2 separate regions of the Homo sapiens genome follow, and region 2 is linked to region 1. Evidence: fine-mapped expression QTL. A gene starts in region 1. The other region holds a variant in brackets. All regions are shown on one strand. Distances are from middle to middle.

What was found.
Region 2: its variant is fine-mapped to the expression of NLRP9 in tibial artery (GTEx, PIP above 0.99). The same link has a PIP of 0.9 or more in aorta and coronary artery.

Annotation. Positions count from the first base shown.
Region 1 is chr19:55,736,713-55,739,627 of GRCh38, reverse strand. It overlaps NLRP9 (NLR family pyrin domain containing 9), which reads left to right and starts at 1,226. Exons shown (of 9, transcript NM_176820.4): 1 at 1,226-1,533. The coding sequence starts at 1,254. It also overlaps the pseudogene RN7SKP109.
Region 2 is chr19:55,704,659-55,707,573 of GRCh38, reverse strand. EPN1 (epsin 1) reads right to left here. Exons shown (of 11, transcript NM_001130072.2): 11 at 1-2,915. Among named protein-coding and RNA genes, the nearest start is that of EPN1, 31 kb to the right of the region's middle. The variant A/C (reference allele first, on the strand shown) is at 1,679.

The DNA.
Region 1 (2,915 bases):
CTACTTGGGAGGACGAGGCAGGAGAATCATTTGAACCTGGGAGGCAGAGGTTGCAGTGAGCTGAGGTCATACCATTGCATTCTAGTCTGGGCAACAAGAGTGAAACTCTATCTCAAAATACATATCTATATATATTTGGTATTATTTTTGCCACCTGTCTTATTTTGTCTACCATATATTTCTACTTCATTTCCTGTCTTTTGTTGAATTGCAATGATTATCTGAAGGGTTTATAATACTGGGAACGTTCACTGCTCTGTTTCTGTCTGAGTTGTCTGCAGATGCTAACCTATAGTAAATCTAACTTTTTCCTTATATACTGTAATAAGAAGGCATATACCGGCCGGGCACGGTGGCTCATGCCTGTAATCCCAGCACTTTGGGAGGCCGAGGCGGGTGGATCACGAGGTCAGGAGATCGAGACCATCCTGGCGAACACAGTAAAACCCCATCTCTACTAAAAATACAAAAAAATTAGCCGGGTGTGGTGGCAGGCACCTGTAGTCCCAGCTACTCAGGAGGCTGAGGCAGGAGAATGACGTGAACCCGGGAGGCAGAGCTTGCAGTGAGCCGAGATTGCGCTACTGCACTCCAGCCTGGGCATCAGAGCGAGACTCTGTCTCAAAAAAAAAAAAAAAAAAGAAGGCATATACCACTAAACGATAAAAAAAAATTTAAATTTGCTTTTATGTCCTCTTCCTTTATTTTCATCTTCCTGAATGTGATCATCTGTAATTTTAATATCCGTTCATTTTTTCATTATCAAAATTGGATTAGACTATACTAAGGATGGGAAGGTCTACAGAGCAAACAAACTCATAGAATGCTGGTAGGAATGTCAGTAATTATATACACAAGGGAAAACCGTTGAGTGTTATGTAGCAAACATGGTGACCTGTGTTTGCTGTTTGACCTATAATTTATAAATCTAGAGAAATGTGTGCTTATATACACCAAACTACACAAAAACACTTGTTCCTGGAAGCATCATTTATGTCAGACAAAAACAAGACACATAAGTGGCAGTCAACTCTACCATTCACATGCATTTGTTTGGAAAAAGATGAAGCTTCTTCCCTAGATGATGTTTGGTGCAAGCTACGCATGATGATATCAATAATTTTGAGCTGCTTTCAGCTGCTGAAGCTTAACTCTGTAATCATGTCATTCTTCTCCAGGTATCATTTATTCTTTATTTTTGAGGATCTTTCTTTTCCCTCTGGAGACACCTCAGTTCACAATCCTGGGGCGATATGGCAGAATCTTTTTTTTCGGATTTTGGCTTGTTGTGGTATCTGAAGGAGCTCAGAAAGGAAGAGTTTTGGAAATTTAAGGAGCTCCTCAAACAACCTTTGGAGAAATTTGAACTCAAGCCAATCCCCTGGGCTGAGCTGAAGAAGGCCTCCAAAGAAGATGTAGCAAAGCTGCTGGACAAACATTACCCAGGAAAGCAGGCATGGGAGGTAACACTGAACCTGTTTCTACAGATCAATAGGAAAGATCTCTGGACAAAGGCTCAGGAAGAGATGAGAAGTAAGTGCTGGATGATGGGGCGAGGACCCATGGGGGAAGCCTGGGAACAAGGTGATAGCATTGTTAAATGAGTGGCCACCCCCTCCATCAGATGAGAATGTGTGTGGGTCAAGGTGAGAGTTGAAGGTAGGAAGAGTTGCAGGCCAGGGCTGTTCATATGTGGGCCAGCGATGAACTGGGGACAGATGGCGTCCTGATACCAACTGTTCACCTATGGAGTGTCTTCCCATTTTTCCACCCCAAGTGGAGTCGTTGTTATAGGAGATGAGTGGCCAGTTAGTGTCTGCATTGCCAGGTCTACTGAGATGGAATTCTAGTATGGTAGTTGCCTATCTTTTTTTTTTTTTTTTTTTTTTTTTTAGAGAAAGGGTCTTGCCATGTTGCTCAGGCTGGTCTTGAACTCCCAGGCTCAAGTGATCCACCTGCCTAGGCATCCCAAAGTGCTGTGATTACAGGAGTGAGCCACCATGCCTAACTGCCTGTCCTTTTTGACCAGACATGTACCAAGGAGTAGGTAGAATCTTAAGACAATCAGACAGCGTATGTCCCGGGTACTACAGGAAGCATTCTTGCGAGCTTGTTTGGAGGTTCTAGTAGGGGAGCACAGCTTCTCTTCTGCCCGCGATGGAAGGACCTTCCTCTATGGGCAAAGGTTGTCATCGTCTTTGACCCAGGGGAGACTTTCAGGACGGACGCATATGGAGCAGTGAGGGAGGAAGTGGACACCCACCCAGCTGGCCACATCAGCCGAATTAGCCCTGGGGCGACCAATGGGGTGACAGACATCACAGCCAGGTTGTCCTCACGTCCTGGAAGCATTCTTTCTGCATAATGTCTTTTCATTCTTATCACAACCCAGGAAAGGTTTACAAGTGAGAAAACTGGACAAAACAGTGTTCCCATGTGTTACATGACTTTTCCAAAAGTGACAGATCTGACTCCGAACCAGTTCTGCTGGACTCATTGATGGGGTCTACACCCTCCTCTCGGGGGATACTTAGGAAAAACTAAATATATTCCCTATTAGGTATCTAGTAATTAGCATTTGTTTCTGATGATTGTTATCTTCTCCCTTTACTTTTGAGTTCCATCAACTTCTGTTACGTTTACTTCTGTTTTGTTCATGTTTCTTCTTTGTGTTGGTAATTCTAATTTGAGACCTTATTTCGTATCCCCACATGCTTGAGGGTATTTTATTTGGTTTGGAGTTGCTTGCTGTGTTAGTTTTTTGTTTTTTTTTTTGTTTTTGTTTTATTTTTTTGAGACGGAGTCTTGCTCTGTTGCCCAGGTTGGAGGGCAGTGACATGATCTCGGTTCACTGCAACTTCTGCCTCCCAGGTTCAAGCGATTCTCCTTCCTCAGCTTCCCGAGTAGCTGGGATT
Region 2 (2,915 bases), 32 kb after region 1:
GAGGGTTTCCAGGTGGTCTGAACTGAAGAGCTGGCTATGTCTGTGATGAGATCAGCACTCTTAGCTTTTCATCTTGGAAAGTTATTTTGGTCTTTCCTTTACCCGAAATAGAGACACTGTCATATTCCACAGAAGGGGCTCAACATGGAGAACATACCCCTGACACCAGTTTCACATTTGACTGGTTTTTGGGTATTTATTTTCATTTGTTATTTGTTCTTTCTTTTGTTTTAGAGTCAGGGTCTGCTTTTTGGCTCAGTCTGGAGGGCAGTGGTGCCATCATAGCTCACTGCAGCCTTGAACTCCTGGGTTCAAGTGATGCTCCTGCCTCAGCCTCCTGTGTAGCTGGGACCACAGGTGCACACTACCGTTCCTTTTTTTTTTTTTTTGAGAGACAGCCTCACTCTGTTGCTCGCCCAGGCTGGAGTGCAGTGGCACAATCTCGGCTCACTGCAGCCTCCGTCTCCTGGGTTCAAGTGATTCTCCTGTCTCAGCCACCTGAGTAGCTGGGATTTCAGGCATGCGCCACCATGCCCTGCTAGTTTTTGTTTTGGTATTTTTAGTAGAGATGGGGTTTTGCCATGTTGGTCAGGCTGGTCTCAAACTCCTGACCTGAGGTAATCCGCCTGCCTCGGCCTCCCAAAGTGCTGGGATTACAGGCCTGAGCCACCGCGCTCAGCCCATTTAAATATTTTTTAGTATAGACGGGGTCTCACTATGTTTCCCAGGCTGGTCTGGTACTCCTGGCTTCAAGTGATCCTCCCACTTCAGCCTCTCAAACTGCTGGGATTACAGGCACAAGCCATCGCACCTGGCCCATTTACTTTTTTTTTTTAATCTCTCTTTACTATTGTTTTTTAAATCTCTCTTTACTATTGTTTTTTAAATCTCTCCCTTCCCTTCCCCTCTTTTCTTTCTTTCCTTTTCCTTCCCCTTCCCTCCTTTTTCTCTCTTTCCTGCAATGCTGCAATCTTGGCTCACTGCAGCCTCTGCCTCTGGGTTCAAGCGATTCTCCCGCCTTAGCCTACTGAGGAGCTGAGATTACAGGCATCTGCCATCATGCCCGGCTAATTTTTGTATTTTTAGTAGAGACAGGGTTTTGCCATGTCGGCCAGGCTGGTCTCGAACTCCCAACCTCAGGTGATCCACCCGCCTCAGCCTCCCAAAGTGCTAGGATTTCAGACATGAGCCACCACGCCCGGCCCTCTTTCACTTTTCTAAAACAGTACGCCACTGCATTCCAGCCTGGGTGACAGAGCGAAACACGGTCTTTTAAAAAAAAAAAAAAAAGAAGAAGAAAAAGAGAAGAAAGGAAGAAAAGAGGAGGAAAAAGGAGAAGAAAGAGGAGGAAAGGAAGAAAGAAAAATAAAGGAAGAAAGGAGGAGAAAAAGGAGGAAGAGGAAGAAGAAAAGAGAGGAGGAGGAGGAAGAAGAAATCAAAGTTCTCCAGTCTCATAAACCTGCACATGCAGAGAATCTGGAAAAACTAAAGCTGGGTTGTTCCCCAACCAATGGACATTCTATGGTCCCTTTTCTTCCAGATAATAAGGCCTTCTTTGTAACTGCTATGCAGACCTCTGGCTTCCCATCCAGCATACCTGAACTAAGACTTATTTTGTCTTACACTTTATACTCACTGAAAATCAAGAATCCCATGGTGAGCTATGATCACACACTGC[A/C]ATGCAGCTTTAGTGATAGAGCAAGACCTTGTCTCTAAATATATATATATATCCCACAACACTCTAAATATATATATATATATATATCCCACAACAACAAATATTCCAGCCACAATGTCAGTATGACTGTTGAAGAACCTGACCTTATGATTGACATGTCATTTTCTCGATACTTTCAAGATTTTCTCTACCTTTGGCCTTTATTAACTTGACTCTGATAATGTTCGGGGATACTTTTCTTTTTTCTAAGAAAGGGTCTTGCTCTGTTGTCCATGCTGGAGTGCAATGGTGCGATCTCGGCTCACTGCAACCTCCACCTCCCGGGCTCAAACGATTCTCCCATCTCAGCATCCCGAGTAGCTGGGACTACAGGTGCATGCCACTATGCATGACTAATTTTTGTATTTTTAGTAGAGATGGTGATTTTGTCATGTTGGCCAGGCTGGTCTCGAACTCCTGACCTCAAGTCATCCATTCGCCCCGGCCTCCCAAACTGCTGGAATTACAGGCTCACGCCACTTCATGAAATGTGTTGTAGTGGCTCTGGATTCTGTATCGTTCTGAGAGGTTTTTTTCATTGGTTTGTTTTCGTTTTTGTGTGTTTCCGTAGGCAAAAAAGTTGCCTGGACAGGTTTACAAAACATATCTCCCCATCTCCCTGCAGTCAGCAGCTATCGGTATCTATGCTAAGTTCCTTCAAAGACTCCTAAGAGGTCTCCATGGACCTCTGAAGTTTAATAGTCAATGATTGGGTCAGAGCTTACTCAGAAACCTCAGGCCAGTGAGGCTTCCAACCTCTGCAGCCCAGGCTGAGTGGCTTGAGTAGCACATTCACTGTGTGGCAGAACTGCGAGTCTGCCCAGGCTTTTCATTTCTTCTGGGCTCCCTGGTGCCTCCCACGTGCATGTGTAGAACAGCATTCAGCCAGAGATGCTTGGGAAGTGGATGAGAACAGCATTCAGCCAGAGATGCTTGGGAAGTGGATGATGTCTACCATTCTACGGATCACTTGCGATGCTTATTTCCCAGGGAACAGAAATGAAGTGGGGCCAGGCCATCTCCTGTCTCTGTTGTCTGTATTACAGAAGGAAGGGAGCGGTGCTGGAGCAGGGGGCCCAGGAGCATCACAGGCGGCAGGCCAAGGAGAGAGATGTAGGTGGCAGGACCCTCCAGGGACTCGGGAGAGACACATGCGTGAGCTTTTGCGATACGGGGTGAGACAGCAAGGGTGCTGTGG